2 separate regions of the Homo sapiens genome follow, and region 2 is linked to region 1. Evidence: fine-mapped expression QTL. A gene starts in region 1. The other region holds a variant in brackets. All regions are shown on one strand. Distances are between the middles of the regions. Region 1 holds the start of TNFRSF13C (TNF receptor superfamily member 13C). Region 2 overlaps SREBF2 (sterol regulatory element binding transcription factor 2).

Evidence for each region. PIP is the estimated chance that this variant, and not a neighbour inherited with it, causes the effect.
Region 2: its variant is the best candidate, but not a certain one, in a credible set for the expression of TNFRSF13C in whole blood (INTERVAL, PIP 0.51).

The regions. Positions count from the first base shown.
Region 1 is chr22:41,924,514-41,929,540 of GRCh38, forward strand. It overlaps TNFRSF13C (TNF receptor superfamily member 13C), which reads right to left and starts at 2,293. Exons shown (of 3, transcript NM_052945.4): 1 at 2,125-2,293; 2 at 1,588-1,818; 3 at 1-1,041. The coding sequence starts at 2,260. The coding sequence ends at 854. It also overlaps a transcript of CENPM not described here. RefSeq lists enhancers at 520-1,021, 1,022-1,521, 4,079-4,148, 4,292-4,902, 4,903-5,027 and a silencer at 1,614-2,353.
Region 2 is chr22:41,849,483-41,854,994 of GRCh38, forward strand. The region is part of intron 1 of SREBF2 (sterol regulatory element binding transcription factor 2); the gene reads left to right. Among named protein-coding and RNA genes, the nearest start is that of SREBF2-AS1, 18 kb to the left of the region's middle. The variant G/A (reference allele first, on the strand shown) is at 2,767.

The sequences.
Region 1 (5,027 bases):
CTGGGCAAGGTGGAGCACCTGTAGTCCCACCTACTCAGGAGGCTGAAGCAGAAAGATTGCTTGAGCCCAGGCTGCAATTAGCTGGGGACCCATCGTTGCACTCCAGCCTGCGTGATACAGCAAGACCCTGTCTCAAAAAAAACCAAAACACAAAACAAGGCCGGGCATGGTGGCTCATGCCTGTAATCCCAGCACTTTGGGAGGCCGAGCAGGGCGGATCACGAGGTCAGGAGATCGAGACCATCCTGGCCAACATGGTGAAATCCCGTCTCTACTAAAAATACAAAAATTAGCTGGCTGTGGTGGTGCGTGCCTGTAATCCCAGCTATTCGGGAGGCTGAGGCAGGAGAATCACTTGAACCAAGGAGTCGGAGGTTACAGTGAGGCGAGATCGCGCCACTGTACTCCAGCCTGGCGACAGAGCAAGACTCGTCTCAAAAAAAAAAAAAAAAAAAAAAAAAAAAAATCAAACAAACACAAAAAACCACCCAACTACAAATTAGGCATCCTCCCACTTGGTCTTTTTTCAGATTCATTTTGGCTTAATGGTGCCTTCCCCATTTTAAAAGCGGTCTTTTACTCATAGTGCCCCAGCCTTTTGAAGGCACAGGAACAGGAGCTGGGCTACCACCTTCAAGGGCTGTCAAAGATGGTGAGGTCTGAAGCCAAAGGCAAGCACACCAAACTCCATGGGGGCTGAATGCTGTGGTCTGTAGTGTCTGTGCTTCTGCAGAGTTAGCCTGGTCCCAGAAAGAGGGCATGTGCATGCTGGAGTGAAGAGCTGAATTTGATTTCCAAGCCCCTGGCTGGGGGTCCAGAGGGAGGGCAGGGGCCACCTCCTGCCGGCTCCCTGCTATTGTTGCTCAGGGCCGGCCGTCTTGGTGGTCACCAGTTCAGTGGAGCCCAGCTCTGTGGCTGGCACAGGGACACTGTGGCCAGGTGGGGTGGTTCCTGGGTCTTCCCCAGGAGGAGGCCAGGCAGGAGCTGTGGCATCAGAGATTCCCGGAGACAGAATGATGACCTTGTCCAGGGGCTCTGGGGCTGCAGGCAGAGGGGGTAGAGGCTCCGTACTCAGTCACAGCCTTCCCTCCCTCCCCTAGAAGACTCCTCTGGAGGGGCAGTCCTCCGTCAAATGAAGCCCAATGCAGGGTGGGGAGGGGTGGCACCTGGCTGACCCTGAGTCCAGAGGCCTGGCCAGTGGGGAGCTGGCAGGGCAGGGAGTTGGGGAGCTGGGGCTCAGTCTGGCAAACTCTTCAGGGATTTATGGGGGAACCAAGCTCCGTTAGACTCCCAAAGGGCAGGACAGACTCCTCCCTCAGACGGGGCCCCCTTCCTGCAACCTGTCTCTTCCTCACACTGGGGTCTGTCAGGGCAGAGCTGTTCCTGGCTCCGACCAGGGTCTCAGGGGCAGGACTATGTCTCCCTCCCCAGCCTGAGCTCCTCAGCGCAAACTCTTTTCCACTCTGTCTCCGTTTCCCCTTAAAGCCCTTCTCTCCCCCTCAGGGGCCATGCATCTCCCCCTAGACCGTCCCGACACCCCAGCCCCTGCGCCCCGCTCAGACTGGTTCCCCTACACACGGAACTCACCGTCCTTGTCTCCGTCGGGGGCCTCTGCGGAGGACGCGCCGCGAAGCCGCCGCTGTCGCCGCCTCCAGCTCACCAGACCCACCAGGACCAGCGCCAGGACCAGTGCCAGGCCCAGCAGCGCGGGGGCGCCAAAGAGCAGCCCGGGCAGGGGCAGCGCCGCCTCGCCGGCCCCCGCGCCCACCGACTCCTGCGGCTGCAGCGCCGTCCTGGGCGCAGGGCTGCTGGCCCCGGCTGCTTCGGGAGGGGACAGGGAGGGAGGCCAGGGGGCCGAGGGGAGGGAGGAGCGGGGACGGGGAGGGGCGGAGGGGGGCGAGGCTGGCCGGGGAGGGGAGGGACAGCCGGGGGGCGGTGGACAAGGGGAGGGAGAGAGGCGGCGGTGAGGGCCACGCGGTGATCGCGGGCCCCTCCAGGCCCTGCCCACAGGGTCCTTTCAGCCCTCGGCGCCCCCGGGGGTCGGGGCTCTGCCTGCGCCCTGGCGATCGGGGCCCCGTTCTCCCCGCAGCTGCCGGCGCCGCGCGCCCCGTGGGTCCCCCTTACCCGGTTTCGGCCGCGGCGTGCGCAGGAGCCCGCAGGCCACGCAGTGGCGGACCAGCAGGTCGAAGCACTCGGCCGGGACGCAGGGCGTGGGGGCTGGCGCGTCCCTGCCCCGCAGGCTCCGGGGCCCTCGCCTCATGGTGCCGACGCCGCCGCACAAGCTGCGGGGACTGAGGCTGAGCTGGGCTCCGGGGCCCTCGGGGAGGAAGCGGGGGGCGGGGGGAGCACTCTGCCCTGCCCCGCCCCCGCCTGCTGGGTGGGACCGAGCTCGCCTGGGGCCCCCCTTTCTTTTCTTTTTTTTTTTTTGAGACGGAGTCTCGCTCTGTCGCCCAGGCTGGAGTGCAATGGCGCTATCTCGGCTCACTGCAAGCTCTGCCTCCCGGGTTCAAACAATTCTCTGCCTCAGCCTCCCGAGTAGCTGAGATTGTAGGCGCCCACTGCCACGCCCGGCTAATTTTTGTATTTTTAGTAGAGACGGGGTTTCACCATCTTGGTCAGACTGGTTTTGAACTCCTGACCTCGTGATCCACCTGCCTCGGCCTCCCAAAGTGCTAGGATTACAGGCGTGAGCCACCGCACCCGGCCTGGCCTCTCTTTCTACCTGTGGTTCCCCAATTCAGCCCCTCAACCAGCACCGCCTGGGTGGGCCCTCTGCTGGGTGCTGGGAGGTGTCTGGGGGCAGACCAGAGCCTCCTCTTGGGTAGGGAGGGGGATGGACCCCGCAGCCAGGACACAGACCCTGAGTGGTTCCTCTGCTCCGTCTAGCCAAAGCCTCTCCATGACCCCGAGTGCTCCCCTGCCATCTCCCCCAACCCACCTGTCTCCTCCTCTCTTCCTGCCCTTCCTGGACAGAGCTGGTTGGGGATATCAGACACCTGCTTTTTTTTTTTTTTTTTTTGAAAAAGAGTCTGGCTCTGTGCAGTGGTGCAATCTCGGCTCACTGCAACCTCTGCCTCCCAGATTCAAGCGATTCTCCTGCCTCAGCCTCCCGAGTAACTGGGATTACAGGCATGCACCACCATGCCCGGCTAATTTTTGTATTTTTAGTAGAGGTGGGGTTTCACCATTTGGCCAGGCTGGTCTCGAACTCCTGACCTCAGGTGATCCGCCCTCCTCGGCCTCCCAAAGTGCTGGGATTATAGGTGTGAAGCCACAGTGCCCAGCCTGACATCAGACACTTGTACCAGGCCCAAGTAGCATGTGGGTCTGCCCTGAGGGAATCTCACACTTGTGCTGATGGGGGAAGACAGCCTCGCAGCAAGGGCACCAGCTCACGTCATCCTGGAAGGTGGGCCGGAAGGCTTCATGGAGAGGGCGATGGTGAAGTGTTTGCCAGATGGACTGAGGTCTAGGGAGCAGATGGGGGTGAAGGCCAAAGGGGAGCAAAGGCTTGGAGGCCCAAACAGGAAGTCCAGGGAGTGCTGGGACCGAAAGGCTGGACTGGGGCCTTATCTAGCACATTAGGGAGCTTGGACTGTGGCTGGGGGACACGAGGGAGCCACTGGGGCTTTGTGCAGGGAGGACCCAGGAAGATCTGCCTATGAGTGAGGGAACTGTGACTGCAGTGGAGGGAAGCCCGCCCACACCTGCTCCTTTTCTCCAGGGCTATGTGTCCTCTCCTGCTCACCTCTGTGTCTCACTGCGGGCCCCTCCTGTCTATCTCTGCTCCCCAGTGTTTGGGGTCCCCAACTGTCTGTCACCCGTGTCTCTCTCAGACTGCGTCTCAGAAACACACACAAGCCCCTCCGCCCTCCTGGTCACATGCTACCCCCTCCCCAGGGCCAGGGCTGGAGGGAACTCTGGGAGCTCAGGGCTCAGCAGAGAGCATGGGGTTAAATGCCACACATGCCACCCAGACCCCTAAGCACTCAGGGCTGGGGAAGCACAGTGAGAGGAGAAACTCAGGGGCTGGGGAGGGAGCCTGGGGGCAGAGGGAGACCCTGAGCAGCAGCGAGGGGGAGGCAAACACTCCAGGCGGAGGGCTGCAGGGGCTAAGGCTTGGAGAGATGAAAGGGGAGCCTGAGCTGCTCTGGGGGCAGGCATGGCCACTGCCACAGGGGATGCTGGGAGGGAGGAGGGAGCATCCGGGCTGCGGATGGGCAGGGCACCAGTCCCGGGGCAGTACAGAACCTGGGGGTGTCTGGGTAGGAGGGAGATTCTGAGCTGTACCTGCAAGGGTCCCTCTCTCTGGCACTGTGGCCCACGTCCAGGGCAGGTGGCCCAGGGCAGGGGATGATGCAGCGGCTGGCCATGGAGTGAGGGGAGCAAGGCCGACCCCCAGGTTTCCAGCTTGGGAGACCCTGAAGGTTCACAAAGAACCCCAGTCAGCCAGCCCTGACTGGTGGGCGCTGGCCCACCCTCTCCATCCCCTGTACATGGGCCAGCAGCTCCCAGGCAGGAAGGTGTGGGCGGAGGGGAGCTGCAAAGGAGAAGTGGGGCTGGGGGCAGGTGTGGGTGAGCGTGGGTGTATGGTGATGTGGGGGTGGGGGCAGGTGTGGGTGAGCGTGGGTGTACGGTACAGGGATGGGGGACAGGACCCTGGAGGGGAGCCAGGGCAGGGAAGGCCTCTCTGTGAGGCAGAGAGGTGGGGACAAAGCCAGAAGACTGAGCCATAACCCTGCCACCCACATACACGTCCATCCATGTTGGTGCTGGTATTACCCATTAGTGAGGGCTGCAGAGGCCTGACTGAGTACCAGGCAGCTCATTTAGCCCTTGTGCCAGCCATGTGGGCAGACTGAGGCTTGTGGGAACCCAGGAACGGGGAACCTGTCCCTGGAGAGGGTGGCCCAGTGAGGCCAGAGTCGGGAGAATTTACAGGAGTTAGGAGGAGGGGGTCCGCCTGCCCCAGGTCTGCGTTTCACAGCAGAAGCACTGGCTGCTCTGACCCCCAGCAGAGACTCGAG
Region 2 (5,512 bases), 75 kb before region 1:
CCGCACCCGCCCCAACAGATGTTTTTACAGAGGTTTTCTACCATAACATGTGCCTCTTGAAGGCATTTATTTTTGTATCTGGCACATAGTAGGATCTCAGTTAATGTTTCTTGAATGCGTGTCTTAAGGGATGTATCTTTTATTAAAATGTATACTTAAAAAGAGAGAGATTGTTCTAGAAAACAGCATCTTGTCAAGGCATATGGTCTCATTTGAAGAATAATTTAATAATTTGGATAGGAAGGTATACTTGTAAAATACAGCCAGTCAAAAATACCTTTTCCCCATTCCCCTTGATGCGTCCATTACATACATGTTCACCCTGAGATTGATCTTCCATCAGCATTGAAATGAACATTGAAAGTAATAAGATGGGCCGGGCTTGGTGACTCACGCCTGTAATCCCAGCACTTTGGGAGGCGGAGGTGGGTGGATCACGAGGTCAGGAGATCGAGACCATCCTGACTAACATGGTGAAACCCCATCTCTGTTAAAAAAATACAAAAAATTAGCCGGGCGTAGTGGCACACACCTGTAGTCCCAGCTACTCGGGAGGCTGAGGCGAGAGAATCGCTTTAACCTGGGAGGCGGAGTTTGCAGTGAGCCGAGATTACCCCACTGCACTCTAGCCTGGGTGACAGAGTGAGACTCCGTCTCAAAAGAAAAAAAGAAAGTAATGAGATGGGGCTGGGCGCCGTGGCTTACGCCTGTAATCCCAGCACTTTGGGAGGCCGAGGCAGGTGGATCACAAGGGCAGGAGATCAAGACCATCCTGGCTAACATGGTGAAACCCTGTCTCTACTAAAAATACCAAAAATTAGCCAGGTGTGGTGGCGGGCACCTGTAGTCCCAGCTACTCAGGAGGGTGAGGCAGGAGAATCACTTCAGAACCAGGGAGGCGGAGGCTGCAGTGAGCCGAGATGGTGCCACTGCACTCCAGCCTGGCAACAGAGCGAGACTCCATCTCAAAAAAAAAAAAAAAGTAATGACATGATTACCTAAGTGCCCCTCCACACAGCCCCAAATCTCCTTTGTTGTCACTCCGAGTCTGTCTTACAGCTTTTCCCCAAGTTGTGATGAGCATAAATGTAAAATCCAAGAAATGTTTATTTTGTAAGGGGAAAAAAGTGTGGGTAGAGGAGAGACTCAGACAAACCTAAATATAGATATAAATTCAAATCTCAGTTCAGCCACTTTGTAGCTTATGTAGGGGGCTTTGGCAAATTATCTAATTTCTTTGAATCTTAGATTCCTCACTTTTTTCTTTCTTTTTGTTTTTTTTGAGATAGCCTCTGTCCCCTGGGCTGGAGTACAGTGGAGAGATCTTGGCTCACTGCAACCTCTGCCTCCAGGGTTCAAGTGATTCTCCTGCCTCAGCCTCCCGAGTAGCTCGGATTACAGGTGCCCACCACCACGCCCAGCTAATTTTTGTATTTTTGGTAGAGATGGGGTTTCACCATGTTGGCCAGGCTGGTCTTGAACTCCTGACCTCAAGTGATCCGCCCACCTCGGCCTCCCAAAGTGCTGGGATTACAGGCGTGAGCCACCAAGCCCGGCCAGTTTCCTCACTTTTAAAACATAATAATATTGGTCTCAGGGTTGATATAACGTACTAAGTGGGTATCAGTGGTAGCTACTTTTATGTTGTCCTCATGGAGGACATGAATGAATTTAATTTCAGTAATATTACCTTCTGTACTGGTAATATTTATTCTGTAAATAAAATATAAATATGCTTTCTACCCAGAAAATAAGTTTATTAGCTTTGTCACTTCATTGGTTTTGTTCTTAAATATCAATAGTGCAACCACTGGCTTTTATTCAAAGGTTTAATTGGAATCTAACCTGGGGATTTTCCCCTTTTTAAATTTATGTTTAAAAAAAAAAACTATGGAAAGTCGGCATGGTCTGGGCTGCTTGGGAGCCTGAGGCAGGAGGATCACTTGAGTCCAGGAATTTGAGACTCTCCTGGGCAACATAGTAAGGCCCTGCTTCTTTTAGTCTTTTTGTTTGTTTGTTTGTTTTTTTGAGATGAAGTCTTGCTCTTGTCCCCCAGTCTGGAGTGCAATGGCGCGATCTCGCCTCACTGCAACCTCCACCTCCCGGGTTCAAGCGATTCTCCTGCCTCAGCCTTCCAAGTAGCTGGGATTACAGGTGCGTACCACCACGCCCAGCTGATTTTTTGTATTTTAAGTAGAGAGAGGGTTTCACCCTGTTGGCCAGGCTGATCTTGAACTCCTGACTGCAGGTGATCCACCCGCCTCGGCCTCCCAAAGTGCTGGTATTACAGGCATGAGCCACCGCACCCAGCCAATAAGGCCTTGCTTCTAAAGACACTTTAAAAAAAAAACAAAGCGGCCGGGCGCGGTGGCTCACGCCTGTAATCCCAGCACTTTGTGGGGCCAAGGGGGGTGGATCACAAGGTCAGGAGATCAAGACCATCCTGGCTAACACGGTGAAACCCCGTCTCTACTAAAAAATACGAAAAATTAGCCGGGCATGGTAGCGGATGCCTGTAGTCTCAGCTACTTGGGAGGCTGAGGCAGGAGAATGGTGTGAACCCGGGAGGTGGAGCTTGCAGTGAGCAGAGATTGTGCCACTGCACTCCAGCCTGGGCGATAGAGAGAGACTCCATCTCAAACAAACAAACAAACAAAAGGCAAACCTATGGGGACCTGGCCTGGGAGTGAAGGAGGGAGGGAGGCAGGGAGGGAGGAAGGAAAAAACCAGAAAAAAAAAGTGAAAAAATTAAATACATTTTATTAT[G/A]TGCTTGATGTATTTTTCTGTGTATTGATATATATCCATCAGTTTGGATTATTCCCATATTTACAATTAAGTAACTGAGTCTCAAGGAAATTAATTAATTTTTCAAAGATAGCACAGTGATTACATTATTGGAGTCACAGCCACTTCTCTTTGAATTTAATCGTGACATCTCCATTCAGTTTGGCCTTGCAAAACGGGCCTTGGTTTAGCTTTTTGACATCTTGCCTTTCTCCTTAAATCTGATCCCTTGTCACTCTTTTTTTATTTTTTTGTTTTTTCCTCTCCTGACTTTCATCTGAAACCCTGAACCCTACAGGCCATGGGAGATGACCTGTTTCCCAGTTTTGGTCACTTTTTGGGCCATATTTATAACCAAAACTCTTATTTAACCAGTTTTCAGAAAATTCTCAGCTTCTTCATCAATTGATGAAGTTATCTGACTGACTTTTTATTCCAGCCATTCTCATACTCTCAGAATGATTTTTTTTTTTTTTTTTTTTTTTTTTTTTTTGTGGTAGATGGAGTTTTGCTCTTTTTGCTCTTTTTGCCTAGGCTGGAGTGCAGTGGCACAGTCTCAGCTCACTGCACCCTCCACCTCCTGGGTTCAGGTGATTCTTCTGCCTCAGCCTCCCAAGTAGCTGCAGGCATGTGCCACCATGCCCAGCTAATTTTTTTATTTTTAGTAGAGACGGGGTTTCACCATGTTGGCCAGGCTTGTCTCGAACTCCTGACCTCAAGTGATCCACCCGCCTTGGCGTCCCAAAGTGCTGGGATTACAGGCATGAGCCACTGTGCCCGGCCAGTGATTCTTAATTAGTTCATGATATTTTGGAGTTCTAGGCAGGACAGCAGCCTCTGCCTCCTCAACCCCATGTAAACCAGAATGAGCAACTGCTGGGCTGGAGGAGCTCTCCTTCTTAGAGCATTGTGGGACAACTTGCTATGAGTTCTCCTTCATTTTTTCATTTCACCACCATGAGTTGTAGGGCCCTTTGTGCTTTGGCCCCTAACAACTTGCCCAGTATGGTGCCCTGCCCATCACCCATTGTCTTCAACAACCTATCATGCAGCTCCATGTCTCCCTGCCTTGGCTCTTGAGGTTCCCTGGCCTAGACTGTACTTTGCATCCTGATCAGCCTTCAATCCAACTCCTTCAGGGAACTATTGACTTGCTGGATTCTGTGATTTTGTCATGTTCCCTGTGTCTCTTTGGTGTCTTGCAGATGCACATCTCTGCTGTGACAATCTTCACAAACCATATTGTGATCCTTTCACTAACTCTTTGAGGTCAAGGACTAATTTATTATCTCTGTGCCTGGTACACAGTGGATGCTTAACCCGTTGAAATCCTTCTGTATTTACATACTTACCTCCCTAAAAGTGAAAGCTTTGCAGAAATTACATAGATCTGTCCAGATTTTCCAGGCTAGTCTAACTTTTAAAAATATCTTATTCCATTATGAGGTGAAACATCCCTTCTAGTTTCTGGTTCAGAAAGCATGATCGGTCAGGTGCAGTGGCTCACGCCTGTAATCCCAGCACTTTGGGAGGCCGCGGCAGGTGGATCACAAGGTCAGGAGATCAAGACCATCCTGGCTAACACGGTGAAACCCCGTCTCTACTAAAAATACAAAAAATTAGCTGGGCGTGGTGGCGGGCGCCTGTAGTCCCAGCTACTCGGGAGGCTGAGGCAGGAGAATGGCGTGAACCCGGGAGGCGGAGCTTGCAGTGAGCTGAGATCACGCCACTGCACTCCATCCTGGGCGACAGAGCGAGACTCCATCTCAAAAAAAAAAAAAAAAGAAGAAAGCATGATCACCATTTTTATAAGTTGCATGAAAGTTGCTATTGAGAGCATTTCAGTGAGTCAGTGCCAGTTTTTTTGTTGTTGTTGTTTTGTGTTTTGTGTTTTTTTGTTTTTGTTTTTGTTTTGAGATGGCGTTTCACTCTTGCCACCCAGGCTGGAGTGCAGTGGCGCGATCTCGACTCACTGCAACCCCTGCCTCCCAGGTTCAAGTGATAACTGCCTCAGCCTTCCGAGTAGCTGGGATTACAGGCACCCACCCCCACACTCAGATAATTTTTATATTTTTAGTAGAGATGGGGTTTCACCATGTTGGCCAGGCTAGTCTCGAACTCCTGACCTCAGGTGATCCACCCGCCTCGGCCTCCCAAAGTGCTGAGATTGCAGGGGTGAACCACCATGCCCGGCCTGGCTTTTGTTTTTTAATACCAGTATGCTTGGTGCTTGAAGCGGTACAGGGAAAGGAACATTTTCTCCATGCACTCATAGAACACAAGACATAAGAAAAACATCTTTAAGATTTATTTATTTAGAATCCGGGGGTGGTGGCTCATTCCTATAATCCCAGCACTTTGGGAGGCTGAGGCGGGCAGATCACTTGAGGCCAGGAGTTCAAGACCAGCCTGGCCAACATGGTGAAACCCGGTCTCAACTGAAAATACAAAAATTAGCCGGGTTTGGTGGTACGTGCCTGTAATGCCAGCTACTCAGGAGCCTGAGGCTTGAGAATTGCTTGAACGTGGGAGGCGGAGGTGGAGCCAGAGGCTGCAGTGAGCTGAGATCACACCACTGCACTCCAGCCTGGGCGACAGAGTGAGACTCTGTCTCAAAAAATAATAAAATAAAATTTATTTATTTAGTGACCTTGTCTCACTTTGTTGCCTAGGCCGACCTTGAATTCCTAGGTTCAAGCGATCCTCCCATCTTAGCCTCCCGTGTAGC